2 separate regions of the Homo sapiens genome follow, and region 2 is linked to region 1. Evidence: fine-mapped expression QTL. Tissue or cell type: subcutaneous fat. Region 1 holds a variant in brackets; the other region holds the start of a gene. All regions are shown on one strand. Distances are between the middles of the regions.

What was found. PIP is the estimated chance that this variant, and not a neighbour inherited with it, causes the effect.
Region 2: ZNF415 starts here. The variant in region 1 is fine-mapped to the expression of ZNF415 in subcutaneous fat (GTEx, PIP above 0.99). The same link has a PIP of 0.9 or more in breast, lung, visceral fat and whole blood.

The regions. Positions count from the first base shown.
Region 1 is chr19:53,082,809-53,090,914 of GRCh38, reverse strand. It overlaps ZNF160 (zinc finger protein 160), which reads left to right. Exons shown (of 6, transcript NM_001322131.2): 3 at 4,594-4,653. The coding sequence starts at 4,639. Among named protein-coding and RNA genes, the nearest start is that of ZNF160, 17 kb to the left of the region's middle. The variant C/T (reference allele first, on the strand shown) is at 3,661.
Region 2 is chr19:53,128,665-53,136,770 of GRCh38, reverse strand. It overlaps ZNF415 (zinc finger protein 415), which reads left to right and starts at 3,861. Exons shown (of 4, transcript NM_018355.4): 1 at 3,861-3,915. It overlaps ZNF347 (zinc finger protein 347), which reads left to right. Exons shown (of 5, transcript NM_032584.3): 5 at 1-1,836.

The sequences.
Region 1 (8,106 bases):
GCTTTCATGCCATTTCCTGCTTAAAACCCTTTACTCACTTCCCACCCTGTGCCTTGTAAGGTCCTCACCCGCGAGGTGCATTCACCCTTTGGGTCCCCTAAGCCTCGCCCTTCATTGCGTCTGCACAGCAGCACCGCAGCTCCGGTGCAAGAGAGTCCTCGCCCTGGTCCTGGGATTCCACAGATCCCACCCCTCCCCTGAGACACCCTCCCATCTTGCTCTCATTGAGCCTTGCCCTCTATCCTGCAGGCCTCCCCCTCATAAGCATGGCTTCCTCTGACCCAGCGTTGAAGGAGGTGACTTGGGCCTGTCTGTTCACCTCCAATGTTCTTTTGTCCCAGATTCCACTCCACTAGGAAAAGTGCTTTCAGTAGGTGGGCATCTTATTCCATCCCCTTCCCTGTAAATATGTGGCCACAGGGGATCAGGAGAAAGAGAGACAGGAGAAAGAGGAAATAGAAAAACTGAGAAGGAGTGAGAAGGACGGGTGAGAACCATGAACAGATGGCAACGCAGAGGATGGGTGGGGAATTTGCAGACAGACACTGAGAGTGAAAGACAAAGCTGAGAAAGTGTGGGGCAGGGAGCAACTGGAGAAATATAGAGAAAAGCTGGGTCTCCAGAGAGATGAAGGACAGCAAGATAGGGAGAGGGGCAGAAAGGGGGAGGCTCCTCAGACAGAGAGTGGGGGAGAGGAGGAGGAATTTGGAGTCAGGGCAGACAGCAATGTGGTGCTGGGACAGCAAGACGGGACAGCTGGTGACAAGGAGAGCAGAGGGAGAACCACAGTATGGGAAGGCTTTGGATCTGGGGGTGCCAGAGAGTGGGGACAAGGGGTGTAACAGGGAAGAGGGGATTTAATAGGGGGAGCAGAGGGGGAGCAAAGATGAGGGAAGAAAGAGGCAGAAATATGTGGAGATTGGGATTGGGACAATGAAAAGTTTGGGCAGAAAGGAATAAGAGGTGGAAGAAGTTGTAGGAATGGAGCAGAACAGGGGGAAGAGAAGGAATGGAGGGAAGAAGGGGAGAAAGAGCAGGAGAGGAGAGGGGCTCAAAATGAGGAGCAGAAACCTGGGGGGAAACATCGGAAAAAAAGAGCCAGGGAGGGAAGGTGAGGATGAGATATGTACAGAATGAGAGAGGGAAACACACAGGAAGGAAGAAGGAGGGGACCTTGGTTCAGGTGAGTGGTGAGTTGATTGAATATGGGTAATTTAGTTGTGACATGTTGATTTCTGTCTTTATAATCTAACAGATTTTAAATATGCTTAAAATACACAGATAAAGATGAGAATTGCAAAACTTGTCTATAAGGCTATGCATTTTATAATTATGGCATCAGAGGTTAGCTTCCACTTGTAACCTTTTCAGCCAGAGGGCAGTGACTTGACTCATTCATTTGTGGGCCACGCTCTTCCTCCATTTCCCTGGGATGGGGTTGGGTAGGGGCGAGAACATGAGTTAATGTAATACTGATTACATAATATTTAGTATTATATGATGCTGATTATAGTCAATATAATAGTGTACAGTCAATGTAATAGTGAACACTCCACACAGAAAACTCATCACCAAAATGTGGAGGAACTTCTTCCCACCAGCAATGCATTTTCCATCCGACACTAACTGGGTGAACTTATACTTCAACTCAATTCTGACACTGTCCAGCTAGAATTAGGATCAGATGCTGTTTACTGGTTGGTCAGTTCCACAGGGCTACCCCCACTTCAAATGCCGGTCACAAGTTGCAGGTTGGGACCTGAACTTCTGGGCGACCAACTGTAAATTGGGGATTCACTTGACCCCCCTCCTCAGGTTGTAGTAATTTGCCACGGTCATTCACCGAACTCAGGACAACACTTAGTTTACTCATTTATTATAAAGTATGTTGCAAAGGACACAGATGAACAGCCAGATGGAAAAGCTGTGCTAGCTAGTTATTCAAACCCAAGGAAAGTGTTAGGGAAGCACATTGACCAGGTCAGTCAGAGCGTACAGCATATGAAGTGAGGGCAGTCCTGTGCGACTGAACCCTCAAGCTGTGGTGTCTGATTCTGTTTTGTAGACGGTGTCAGAATTGAGTAAAACAGCAGGACTCCCTACCTGGGAGTCTGCTGGAGAAGCTGTCATTGTGGGGACAATGACACACATTTTGGTGACTAGAGGTGAAATATTCTGTGTTAGAGTGTCAGAGTAGTATGAACAATTTTTTTCCTCTCTGAACAGATCTCCAATGCATGATAAAGCCTTTTTTTCTTCTACTCTTCCATCTTTAAGACAAAAAAATACTTTCAACTACATTTCCCTCTGTAATAAGTACCTATTTGTGCTCTATTTAAGAGCATAATATTCTAAAAACTAGTTTTACTTTGTCTTCAATTCTTTTTTTTTTTTTAAATAAAAATATAGAGACAGGATCTTGCTGTGTTGGCCAGGCTGGTCTCAAACTCCTGGGCTCAAGTAGTCTTTCCACCTCAACCTCCCAAAGTACTGGGATTACAAGCGTGAGCCGTGTGCGGCCACTTTGTCTTCAATTATTGCTTAAACCTTTGAATTGTTGCTTGAATCTAGCTTTCACATCCAGCATTCCACTGATTCTTCCTTTTTCAGTCATCAGTGACCTCCCAATTCCTAAATGCCGTAATTCATGTCCTGTCCTCATCTTTTTCTTCCTGTCGGTAGCATGTAGCACAGCTGATCACTTCCTCTTCTGTTATCTTGGCTTTTATGACACCCCGTTAACCTTTACAAATCTATTCAATCTTCTTGCCACTCTGATCACTTTCTGCTTTCCTCTTCTGGTGTCTCCAGAACTTTCTTGTTCTCTGAATGTGCAAGTGCTCATGGCTCAGTCCTTACACCTCTTCTTGTCTCCGTCCACACCCACTGCCTTTCCGTACTTCTCATCTCATGGCTTTATGCCCCACCTGTTAATACTCAGCCCCATGTACCCTGCAGACCCTCCTCTGAGGTCTAGAATCCTGTGTCTAGTTGTCTCCAAAACTCTCTACAGGGATGTCCCAACAGGCATCTCCATTTTCATATGCCTAAAAGTGACTTCTTGGCTGGGCACAGTGGCTCATGCCTATAATCCCAGCACTTTGGGAGGCCGAGGCAGGCGGATCACCTGAGGCCAGGAGTTTGAGACCAGCCTGGCCAACATGGCGAAACCCTATCTCTACTAAAAATACAAAAAATTAGCCGGGCGTGGTGGCGGGCGCCTGTAATCCCAGCTACTCAGGAGGCTGAGGCAGGAGAATCGCTTGAACCCAGGAGGCGGAGGCTGCAGTGAGCCGAGATCACGCTACTGCACTCCAGCCTGGGCAACAAGAGTGAAACTCTCTCAAAAATTAATTAATTAATTATTTAAATAAAAGTGACTTCCCAAACTCCTCCAAACATATTCACCCCTGCAGTCTTGCACATCTCAGCTAAGGGCAACCCTGTACTTCCTGGGGCTCAGCTGAACTTCTTGTCATGTTTAAAATATGCAAGATACTATGTTGTAAGTGTGTTACTTTGTAAAATGAAGAAAAAATTAAGCATTTACTTAAAACAGGTGAGGAAATACATGGTTTCATAAATTTTTTTGACGTATGGGAGAAAGAATGTTTGAAGACCTCTCCCTGCGTGATCTGCACCCTCAGGACCTCTCAGACG[C/T]CATCTCCTTCCTGTGTCCTCCCAGCCCCCTCTGCTCCAGTCACACAGGCCCCTTTCCTTTTCCTGGAGCCAAGGTTGCTCCTGCCTCAAGGCTTCCATGTGGGCTGGCCCTCTGCCTAGAACTCCCTGGCCTCTCAGCTGCAAGTGACAAGCAGCCTTTCTTCCTGAGGTCTTTGTTCTGACATCACTTCCTCCGTGGAAACGTTTGTGATCTCCCACAGCCTCCTATTTGACATTGCAGGCCCACCTTCACCCCCACCTCTGGTCCATGTTGCCTGTTCTGTGTGATTCTTTTTGCTCCTTCAATATCCAGTCTGGATCCTGGTGAGAACAAGTCCCCAACAGGAGAGCAGAGCCAGAAGGTGGGGCTGTGCTGGGCTCACCCCCTCAGTGGAGCTCAACCCTGGCTTCATATTAGAGTGCCTAGGCGTTTTGCAGAAACATCTCTTGTGCCCCCTTGACGTATTTTCATTTCAGTGTTTTAGAGCCCAGCTGAGTAATATTTAAAGTTGACTCTATTCTGTAGCCAGCATAGTACCAATCACTGTCTTTTGTTTCTGAAGGCTGAGCTCAGCCTGGGATCCACAGAGAGGTGAGGGGGGCTGTGTTCTGCATGGGGTTTGGTCAGGGCTGGGTCTGTGTCCTAAAGGGGAGCTCAGTCCAGCCCAGCTCCCCACTGCTGCAGTGTGTGTGGGCTTCTCCAGGAGGAAGGTGGGTTCTGAAGAAAGGGGTCAGAAACTCACTTCTTCCTGTAGGAGTTTCTCGTCCCCGTATTCCCCCTGGTGCAGTGGGGCGCAGAGGACCATCTTTCCACAGGGTGAGATCTGTGCGTGTGACTGTGGCACATGAAGGGGATGTATAGATTCTCAGCCCTAAGCAGCATATTTTGGATATTCAGTATTGACTTCTAAAGACTCTTTTATGTTACCCAAGGAAGAAGTCTGGAAGAAGAGGAAGAGGAAAGAAAAGGAGTCAGGGATGGCCCTTACTCAGGTAAAGTGATACTCCTGGTGGATTGTTCTTTTATTTCTTCCTGAAATGCCTGGCATTGGCATTGCGAATCTTCTCTGAGTCTGAAGCGTCCTGCCTGACATGTTTGCTAGCACTCACCCGCGCCTTCCCTCAGTCCCTCTCATCTCGTTTAGATTCCATCTCCCGTGATCCAGTGACATGAACTTGGGAAGAGGCTGCACTGGGCATGGTCCTGGGAAGGGCTCACACCCAGACATGGATGGAGACGGGGTGAGGGTCCTGTGGTGTCAGTGCTGTTGGGCAGCAGGGATTGCTCAGGGGCCGCATCTGGATGCACTGTCAGCGCTGTGTAAACCATGATAACAGAAGCTGCCCATGAAGTCAGGTGCACACGTACCTGCTCACTGGCATAGAAAAGAACACTAAGGGGAAAGCTTTCCTGCCTCATTGGTAACTGCATTTGAAGCCGAACAAGTGAGTCATTGGATTTCCGACTCCAAACTCGTAAAGACTGGGAACAGAATGGAAAGTTTAGACACTGACATTGGAGATAGATGATTCTTTCATTCCATCATCCATTTTAATGTATGACGTCAACATAAATGTGTAACAAGATTCATTAAACTAGTCTCAGAAGCTCTATCCCATGGAGACTGTGATGTTCTTACAAGAACCTTTGTCCGTCGGGTATTGTAGGTGAGAATGGCATATAAGCAGAACAACCTTGCCATTAGAGAGAATGGAACTGTATTTTTGTTTTACCAGTTATGAGTCAACATTTTGTTTCTTTTATTTTGAACATGGCATCATGTATATATTTCTTTTATAGTGAAATGATACATTTATGTGCCAAGAGGTAAAGCATCCCTTTTCCTGTCCAGCCTTCCACCCTCCCTCACATCTTAGTGGGGAGCCACTGTTCTCAATTCTGTGGGAAGGGTCAGTGCAAGTCCTGTAGAAATGTATTTTGACATCATTATGAGATTTAAACAAATTCCTCAGTGAATGTTTGGTTGTGATATGTTAACCTGCAAGTTTTGAACATTGACATGTTTTCGTGTTAGGAAACAGGAGCTCACTTTTCTACATCCTTGTTGGAGCATGCTGGGAATGAAGACAGGTGGATCTTTTAACTTTCTCACTTCTATAAAGAATGCCACACAGGGTGCTGCATGGTGGCTCACACCTGTAATCCCAGCACTTGTGGAAGCCAAGGTGGGAGGATCATTTGAGCCCCAGAGATTGAGGCTGCAGTGAGCCATGATAGTGCCACTGCACTTCAGCCTGAGTGATAGAACAAGACCTTGTCTCAAAAAAAAAAAAAAAAAAGGTGCCACCCTGGCTGCCTGTGACCATGCCGACTTCACTATGGATCGTGGAGAGTTCCTCCAGGCTGGACGATTGGAAGAGTGATCTCTTCTAGGATGGCACATTTCCTGTGTTGCTAGATCTGGCAAGATTCTATCCCTACCCCAGGTGCAGAGGTGCCCTCTCCCACCAATGCCACGTCAGATTTCCCCCTCATTAAGCAAACTTGCCACTGTGTTCATTTTATATTATGAAAATGCGGGGATAATGCAACCCATTTTATTTTCATTTTCTTATTCCTTGTGAGTCTGAGTGGGTTGCATTACTTTGTGGATGTGTATATATGAAATGAATTTTTATACTTTGCTCCATTTTCTGTTCCTGGAATTCAGGAGCTGTGTTGTATTCTGCGGTTTATTTTCTTTTTAACTTTTACTACATTTTTTGAGACAGGGTCTCACCCTGTTGCTGGAGCGAGGCCGGAGCACGGCGGCTCTGTCACTGACATGCAGGTTCAGTTGCTCGCTGCTTGCAGAGTCCAGTTAACAAGAGCAAGGTCTGGTAGAAAGACAGTGACTTTTTATTCCAAAGCTAGCTTAGGGGAAGAAGTACAGGCTTCCTGCCGTAAGGTACTGCATTGCTTTTGGAGCAGAAAGCAGGCGCTTTTAAAAGGCGGGCTTGGCATGAATGGCACTAAGGAGAGGAAGCGAGCAGGTGGGTGTCCCCCTAACTTGCTTCTGTGCCTTACGTACCAGGGGGTTGAGCTGGCAGCCACTGGTGCCTTCGTGGGCAGAACTGGGTTGTAAAAGTGGCTGAAACTCTCCGGGTGGGAGAGAGTTTTGTAGCAGGACTTTGGGTTGTAGATTGATTGCTGTTTCTCGAGGTAACCTCCTGGCAAGTGAGATTCCCCTCTGGAGCTCGAAGCACATAGTTGGATGAACTTGCCCTGTAGAGAGTGTCTGCTGAAGGGGAGGTAAAAGGTTATAAGTGTATTTCTAAAGGGCTAAGTAGGAAGTAGGGAACAGGGGAAAATGGGGAAAGGAGAAAATAAGAGAAAAAAATAATAACTCACTCCCTTTTTCTTAGAAAAATGAGCGTACTTGGTTACAGTACAGTCATGGCTCACTGTAGCCTTGACCTCCTTGGCCTAAGCAATTGTCCCACCTCAGTCTCCTGAGTAGCTGGGACTACGGTTGTGTGCTGCCACACCCAGATAATTTTTTATGTTTTTGTTTTTTGTAGAGACAGGGTCTCACTATGTTGCCCAGGCTGGTCTCAAACTCCTGGGCCCAAGCCATCCTCCTGACTGTGCCTCCTAAAGTGCTGGGATTATAGGCATGAGCCATTGTGCCCGGCTTGGTTTAATTCTTTATATACGCACTGTTGTCTTCCTTTCGATTACACATTATTCTACTGTAAAAATAATCTTTCGTTGCTTACCCCTTTCTCAATTATTTGTTCAGTTTATCTTATTTTGGAAGGCCTTAACGAAATGAAATGGTATGCTTTATCTTTATCTACCAGTGGATTGTTCACATGGCCTTTGTCTTTGACCCAGTTCCTGGCATATACAGCTCCTAAAATCTATAGAGTTTCCTAAGTGTTGTCTTTTTGCATGCTGATGCATTGACTGATAGCTGGCAGCCTCCAACAAGCTTCAGGATGGGGCCTGAGTTGCCAGAATATCCAAGGCAAGATTGGAAGATTGGGGCTTTAAACTCCACTCCTCAGCTACCAGGGAGGGGGAGAGGCGACGAAGGTTAAGTTGATCACCAGTGGCCAATGGTTTAATCATGCCTACTTCATGAAGTTTCTATGAAAACACAAAAGCACATGGTTCAGAGAGCTTCAGTTTAGGTGAACACGTGGAGATTCCTGAGGGTGGCATACTCAGGGAGGGCATGGAAGTTCCAACCCCTTTTCCAATACTTCACTGTATGCATCTCTTCATATGTATTCATTGTAATATCCTTTATAATAAATGGGTAAATGTACATAAAGTGTCTCCCTGAGGTCTGTGAGGTCTAGCAAATTAATTGAACCCAATGAGGGAGTTACAGGAACCCTGATTAATAGTCAGTCTGTCAAAAGCACAGGAAAAACAACCTGGGGCTTGCTGTTGGCGCCCGAAGTGGGACTGAACCCTCAACCTGTGGGATTTGCCAC
Region 2 (8,106 bases), 46 kb before region 1:
GCTGTTTAAATTGCCTAAAATATTTTTACAGTAGTTCAATGCAAATGAATTTGTGGAAAAGTTTATTACATAATATGATCAAGCAATTTTAGCCAAAGGGCATTTTTCCAAAGGCTGTGTTATATTCATGTCTTGTTCAGTTTATGGTATTGTGTAACATATTCTCCATAGCTTCTTTTCTTTTTTTTTTTCTTTTTCTTTTTAGACGTGGGGTCTCGCTATGTTGGCCAGGTTGGTCTTGAACTCTTGGCCTCAAGCATTCCTCCTGCCTCAGCTTCCCAAAGTGCTAGGATTACAGCCATGAGCCAATAGTAGTAAAATGACTTTTTGTTTTTGTATATGATTTTTACTTTAAGGATTTTTTCCTTCCATACATTTTAATCCAAATTATATGTTTACTGCATTTCTTCTCTGTGTTACTCCAGTGAACACTTAGAAAATACATAAATGAGGGTGTTGTTTAGAAATAAAATTTTGTGACATGAAAATGTATGTAAAACAATGGCAGGTACAGACTAGGTTCTCTGTAAATAGGAAAATGGAGTGTCCTTGTAAATCTTTAGTTCAATTAAAGTACAGGGATACTAGATGGTGAAATGAAGTCTCTTAATATGGAAGTTATCAAAGATCAGATGCTTGAAAATCAAGCGTGTGGAGGTTAACCAGCATCTGGAGAAGTAAATGAAAATACAGTTAATAAGAGAGTCCCCAAGATATTAATTATCATTTATGCAAAGGAGATAATTTCTCTCATTGAATCCCTGGAGGCAATTCAACTTCCTACTGTGGCTGGTATTTCTTTTCTGAGCCAGAGGATCTTACAGCAAAACATGATATTTGTGCAACTTTTGCAATGACAGCTGCCATTTAATATACTCCCCTTAGATTTGTTTCCATTTTAAAAAACTGATATATATTCTTTAATAAGTGATTTATCTTTGCATATATATTTTATATCAATCACATTTAGAGTAAGAATCACAGTTATTAATGCTTTATGTGTAACAACTGAATCATCAGCTCCTGAAATAAGTATTAATGATATTCTCATTTCAGAGGTGAGGAAACTTAGGACAGATAAGCAAAATAATCAAATTAGGCTGGGCACAGTGGCTCATGCCTGTAATCCCAGCACTTTGGGAGGCCGAGGCGGGGGGATCACCTGAGGTCAGGAATTCGAGACCAGCCTGATCAACATGGTGAAACCCCGTCTCTACTAAAAATACAAAAATTAGCTGGGTGTGATGGCGGGCGCCTGTAATCCCAGCTATTCGGGAGGCTGAGGCAGGAGAATTGCTTGAGCCTGGGAGGCGGATGTTGCAGTTAGCCGAGTTCCCACCATTGCACTCCAGTCTCAGTGACAGAGCGGGACTCCATCTCTCTCTCTCTCTCTCTCTCTCTTTCTCTCTCTCTCTCTCTCTCTCTCTCTCTATATATATATATATATATATATATATATATATATATATATTTAGAAAATGGGTAGAACTATGAAGAGACATTTCACTGAAGCAGTTATACTGAGATAAATAGGCACATAAAAAGATTTCCAACATCACCATCCATCAAATCTCAGATCTCAGCATATTCTGCTTTAAAAGACTCATCTTGTCACATTTCAGTAAGAGGCAGAATCGAGATTTGAATCCATGTTGTCTGGTTGCAAAGACAAAGCTTTTAATGATGATGCTACAGTAACAATGCTAGTTATTTTTGTCCTTTACTCACCATCTATACCTATTTTGTTAGTATCTCTTGTAATTTTTAAATGGTTTATCTTCATATATCATTGTGATTGTGGTAACTTTGTATTAAATCTATATTTTTATAGATCAATTAAGTCTATATTTTATAGATCACTATTGCGTATGCATCTTACCTAAATGAATGACAGAGACACTCATTACCACATAATCCTGTAAGAACGATTATCCAATCTTTCGAAGGAGGCATCCAGTACCTGAGGTGTTAGTTCTAGTGGTGGCCAGGCGCTGTAGCTCACCCCTGTAATCCCAGCACTTTGGGAGGCCAAGGGGGGTGGATCTCCTGAGGTCAGGAATTGGAGACCAGCCTGGCCAACATGGTGAAAACCCATCTCTACTAAAAATACAAAAAATAGCTGGGTGTGGTGGCGCGTGCGTGTGGTTGAAGCTACTCAAGAGGCTGAGGCAGGAGAATCGCTTGAGCCTGGGAGGTAGAGGTTACAGTAAGCTGAGATCACACCACCGCACTCCAGCCTGGGTGACAGAACAAGACTCTGTCTCAAAAAAAAAAAAAAATCACTAATAATGACAAAGTGCATATTTCTTGAGCTGAGAATATTTTTGTATCTGTGTTTCCATTGTTCGTTTCCAAAAACAATTACAGGTTGCTAATACACATCAACTGGACTGTTCAGTAGAAGCTCCTGTGTTTCTCATGATCTCTGACAGCATCCAGGGGTTCACATGGAGAAAGCAGAATATGCTGAGGTCTGAGATTTGATGGATGGTGATGTTGGAAATCTTTTTATGTGCCCATTTATCTCAGTATATCTGCTTCAGTGAAATGTCTCTTCATAGTTCTATCCATTTTCTAATTTGATTATTTTGCTTTTTTTTTAAGTCGTTCTAGGATTCTTTATACATTCCACATACCAGTTTTATGTCAGATATATGGTAGGCAAATATTTTCTATTATTCAGTACTGTATTAGTCCATTTTCACACTGCCTAAACCCTCCTGTGACAACCTGAGACTGGGTAATTTATAAACAAAAGAGGTTTAATTGACTCACAGTTCCGCATGGCTAGGGAGCCCTCAGGAAACTTACAATCATAGAGGAAGGCAAAGGCGAAGCAAGGCACGTCTTGCTTGCAGCAGGAGAGAGAGCGATCAAAGGAGGAACTATCACAGATTTTTAAACCATGAGATCTCCTGAGAGCTCACTATCATGAGAACGGCTTGGGGAAAACCACCCCCATGATCCAGTCACCTCCCACCAGGTCCCTCCCTCAACACCTGAGGTTTATACTTGAAAATGAGATTTGATGGGGACACTGAGCCAAACCATATCAAATACCTTTTCTTTCATCGTCTGAAGGTCTTTCACAGACCAAAAGTTTTTAATTTGGTAAATACCAGTTGATTTTTTTTTTCTTTAATGAATCATGCTTTTGCTGCTATGGCTAAGAATTTTTGAACAAGCTCTTGATTCTTACGATTTTATTGTGAGTAATTTTTTCTTTCAGTCTCCTACAGGATACCATTTTATGGTTTGATATTTTACATTTAGGCTATGGTCAATGTTGAACTAATGTCTGTACGGTTGTGAAGTTTGAGTAGAGATGACTTCTTTCCTGCTGTGGATATTAAGTTAGCCCCTCACCAGTTTTTAAAAATTCTTCATTCAATTCCCTTGGTAACTTTGTCAAAAATCAGTTGGAAGTACCTGTAGAGGCTATTTTTGTACTCTCTTACTGTATTGCATCAATCCATATGTCTTTTATTGCCCCAAAACCACACAGTTTTTATTACCTTTCCTATATTGGTAGTCTTGAAATCCAGTGGAGTGATTCCAGACACTTCATTTTTGTTTTTTGGTAACTTTTATGGATCCAATCACTGCTAGTTTTGGATTCCCCACCGAAATCCCAGTTCCCGGACTGCTAAGCTGCAGGAGACTCCCTAGCAGGATCGGGTCCAACCTGCAGGCAAAATAGTTTTAACATAAACCGTTTTCAACTTGGTAAGTGGAAAACATTTTGGTTTCCACCATAAGTGGCCCACACAACTCTGATTTTTTTACCTTAAAGCGGCGCAGACCCCGCCCACTCCAGCCATTCCTTCAGGCTGCCCGGGCTCTTCTCTCCGCGCATGCGCAGTTTCCTACAGGCCCGGAAACGGATCGCGTTGGGTGAAGGTGACGGCGTCGAGCGTGAGTGACCCTCTGTGTAGATTAAACCTGCGCTCCCTGTTTCCCATTTCCACAGCCGATGTCCAGGGTCGATACGGCCCTTAAAATCCCCGTACACTCCACCCCAGGTGAATACAGGCCTCGCAGTGTGGGTCCGGAGTCGCTTCCCTTTGGGTTGAAGTCGCTTTGAGGCTGCTCCCCGTCCCCGGCCTTTTGCTTCTTCCTCCCGCTTAAAACCTTTTCCTGACCCCCTCCCCCATCCCCGGGCTTTTTAAAGTCTTCACCCAAGAGGTGTATTCCCGTCCTGGGTGCCTCCCAGCCTTGCCCTCGTCGGCCCCTGGAGCGCAGCGCCGCAGCTGCAGCCGCAGTCCCGGGGAGCCTTGCGTCCTCTGCCTGGTCCTGGGATCCTGCAGACCCCACCCCTGTCTGAAGGCGCTGTCGCGCCCCACCTCCCTCCTCCTCGTGCCGGGCCCCGCTGCTCCCCAGGCCTCCCCTGAGCCCGCGCTGGGGAGGTGCTCAGGGCCTGTCCTGTGACACCCGATGTTCTTGCCTGCCCTCCTCCACCCCGTGGAAAATGCGCTCCTCCAGGATGCAGGCGTCTTACCCCAAACCGTCCTGTGAATGTGTGGGCCAAAGGGATCGAGGGACAGAGAGAGCAGTAGAAAACCTGAGACAGGAAGGAATGAGGCAAACCAATAAACAGATGGCAAAGTAGAGGATGGTTAGAGATTTTCAGAGACAGTAAGAGTGGAAGAAGAAGCCGAGAAAGTAGCAGGGAGAGAAAAGTAACTAGACACATTTCGAGAAAAAGCACAGTATCCAGAGAGATGAAGGACAGCCAGGTAGGGAGAGGGGCAGCAAAGGAGGAGGCTCCTCAGACAGAGAGTGGGGGAGAGCAGAAGGGATTTGGAGCCAGGGCAGACAGGGCAGTGTGGTACCGGGACAGCAAGAGGGGGCAGCCGATGACAAGGAGAAGCAGAGGGAGAACCACAGCACGGGGAGGCCTGGGATCTGGGGGTGCCAAAGAGTGGGGACAACGGTGTGTAACAGGGAAGAGGGAATTTAACAGGGAGTGCTGAAATGGGGAAGAAAGAGCCAGAAATATGTGGAGACTGGGACAATGAAAAGATTAGGAAGAAAGAGGAATTAAATACATTGCAAGAATGGAAAGAGCAAGTGGAAGAGAAAGAATAGAGGGAAGACGGGGAGGAGCAGCAGGAGAGGAGAGGGGCTCAAAATGAGCAGAATCCTAGGGAGAAAATAAAGGGGAAGGAAAGAGCTAGAGAAAGAAGGTGAGAATGAGAGCGATGTACGGAACGAGGGAGGGAAACACACCATAATGAGGAAAGAGGGGGACCCCAGGTCCAGGTGAGTTGTGAACTGACTGGATGTGATGACTACCTTTTGACCTGTTGATTTCTGTCTTTATAAGTTTAAAATGCACAGATGATGAGAATTGCAAAGCTCCTGTCTATTAAGGCTGGTGCATTTTATAATTATGGCATCAGAAGTTAGCTTCCACTTGCAATCCCTGTTAAGGCAGAGGGAAGTGACTTGACTCATTAATTCCACAGGTCATCCTCTTCCCCTTCCCTGGCGTTGGGGCAGGGGGAGGGGAAGGGGGAGTGGGAGAGTAAAGCTGGGCAGAAAGTGAAAGACTGTCACTACATAGTGTCTCTCTAAAGCAGGGGTGTCCAATCTTTTGGCTTCCCTGGGCCACATTGGAAGAAGAATTGTCTTGGGCCACACATAAAGTACACTAACACTAACAATAGCTGATGAGCTAAAAAAAAAAAAAAAAAAAAAAAAAAAAGTTGCAAGAAAATCTCAAAATGTTTTAAGGAAGTTTAGGAATTTGTGTTGGGCTGCATTCAAAGCCTTCCTGGGCTGCGGATTGGACAACGTTGCTCAAAAGGAACATTAAAAGTGTTGAGGCTGGGCATGGTGGCTCATGCCTGTAATCCCAGCACTTTGGGAGGCCGAGGTGGGTGAATCACAAGGTCAGTAGTTCAAGACCAGCCTGGCAAAGATGGTGAAACCCCATCTCTACTAAAAATACAAAACTTAGCCAGGTATGGTGACACGCATCTGTAATCCCAGCTACTCAGGAGGCTGAGGCAAAGCATTGTGTAAACCCGGGAGGCGGAGGTTGCAGTGAGCCAAGAGCCGAGATCCGGTGACAGAGCAAGACTGCGTCTGAAAAAAAAACAAAGAACAAACAAAAAAAGTGTTGTTGCTTTTTGTAATTGATTTGCTTTTTTTCTTACTAATTCCCTTTCATCTCATGTATAGTTCATTTTGCAACTTGAGATAGATCTTCATTAATTCAGTTTCTATTTTTCTGTATATAATTATTTCCAAAGTAACTTTGGTGGCATCCTATAATCAGCTCATGGCATTTTCTAAATATAATGTGTTTTCAATTTTTTTAGCTCCAAAATTCATCAGATATTTCTTAACAATTTCAAAATCTTTCCCTTTGAAATTAATTGTGTCCAGTTTTGATAGAGGTCTGCATGCTTTCTGCTCTTTATTATATAATAGAAGCATTATTTGTTGACTAGTAGGTAATTTTAGATTGTTTCAATGTGTACCTGATAAAGATGTCAATGATGTTTTTACCTTAACATGGAAACCTAGTTTAACTAGTCTATTATTCAATTTTCTTCTTTTGTGTAATTTGTTAAAATAGTAAGCTGTGAGCTGCATTTGGAACCAATGTGATAAAACCTTGAAGAAGTTTCTTTTGCTCAGATATGTGAAAGAGGGTCTGGGAATTTTCTTTTTTTCTTTTCTTTTTTTTTTTTTTTGTGAGCTGGAGTCTTGCTCTCTCACCCAGGCTGGAGTACAGTGGTGCAATCTCGGCTCACTGCAACCTCCGCCTCCCGGGTTCAAGCGATTCTCCTGCCTCAGCCTCCTGAGTAGCTGGGATTACAGGCACAGGCCACCACACCCGGCTAACTTTTGTGTTTTTTGATAGAGATGAGCTTTCATCATGTTGGCCAGGCTGGTCTCAAACTCCTGGCCTCAAGTAATCTCCCCTCCTTCAGCCTCGAAGTGCTGGGATTACAGGCACGAGCCAACATGCCTGGCCAGTCCTGGAATTTTCTAAGGGAGATGTGATAAAGGCAAACACAGCCCATTGGCCCTTCCAGGTCGTGACATCATAATTCAGCCACATCTCCTCCTTCTCACTCAACTCAGACCTCTCAGGATAACTTGGTGAAATGACTCCCTCTCTCAGCCTCAGTGAGCCCACCTGTAACAGAGATAAGGGACTAGACCAGAAAACCTCAATGTGAGCAACACTGACTCCTGAAATTTGGGGCAAAATTGGGTGTGCATTTGTGTTTGGCAGTTGTATGTGGGGGGACTAGCCAGTTGCAATTAAAATTTTTATTTGGATTTCTTCCTCTAAAAATGAAAACAAGAATGTGAAGCAGGGACTCAGACACAGAGACCATCTTCGGGGCCTTTCTCTGTATGAGGACATCACAGAGAAATCTAAAGCAGGTCACGTCAGTCCCTGGCAGGGAACCCTCCACCAGCTTCCTGTGTTCCCCAGGACAAAAGCCCAACTCCTCACTGTGGCTCCACAGCCCTGTGTCCAGGGCCCCTGCCAGTGTCCAGCCTCCTCCTGGGAGCTTGCCCTCATCTCATGACTCCCTCTGCACCAGTCACATTTGCTTTTCTCTTTTCCCAAATGTCAAAACCCTTCCTGTCACGGGTCGTTGTCCCTGCTTTTACCCTATGTCCCTAAATGATCGTGACCCTGTCCCTTTTTCCTCCTTCGGGTCTAGACTGAGAGATGTCTCCCGTGCCCTCCCACCCCCATCTGAAATTCTCTCTGCCCGTCACTCTCTATCACATTATTCAGGTTTCACTGTCTCCGCATCCATCACCACATCGGACACTCTTCTGCGTGGATTATTTTGAGTGTTTTGTGTCTCCCTCCATTGGAGGACACAGTCTCCATCTGGGCCACGGGATGACTGCAGCACCTGCTCCGGGGTTGTGGTTCAGATGCTGGGGCTGGGGTTGGGCTGAAGACTCCTCAGGGAAGACCAAAAGGACAGGGCGGGTAGTGAGGATGGTCTCATATTCTGGAAATTTCATCTGTAATTGGTCTAAACTTCCTGTGGCTATTTATTCCAGTCTATGTAAGAGCAGAAGGCCTCACTGAGGCCTGAAAAGCCCCGCAGACCCTGTGTC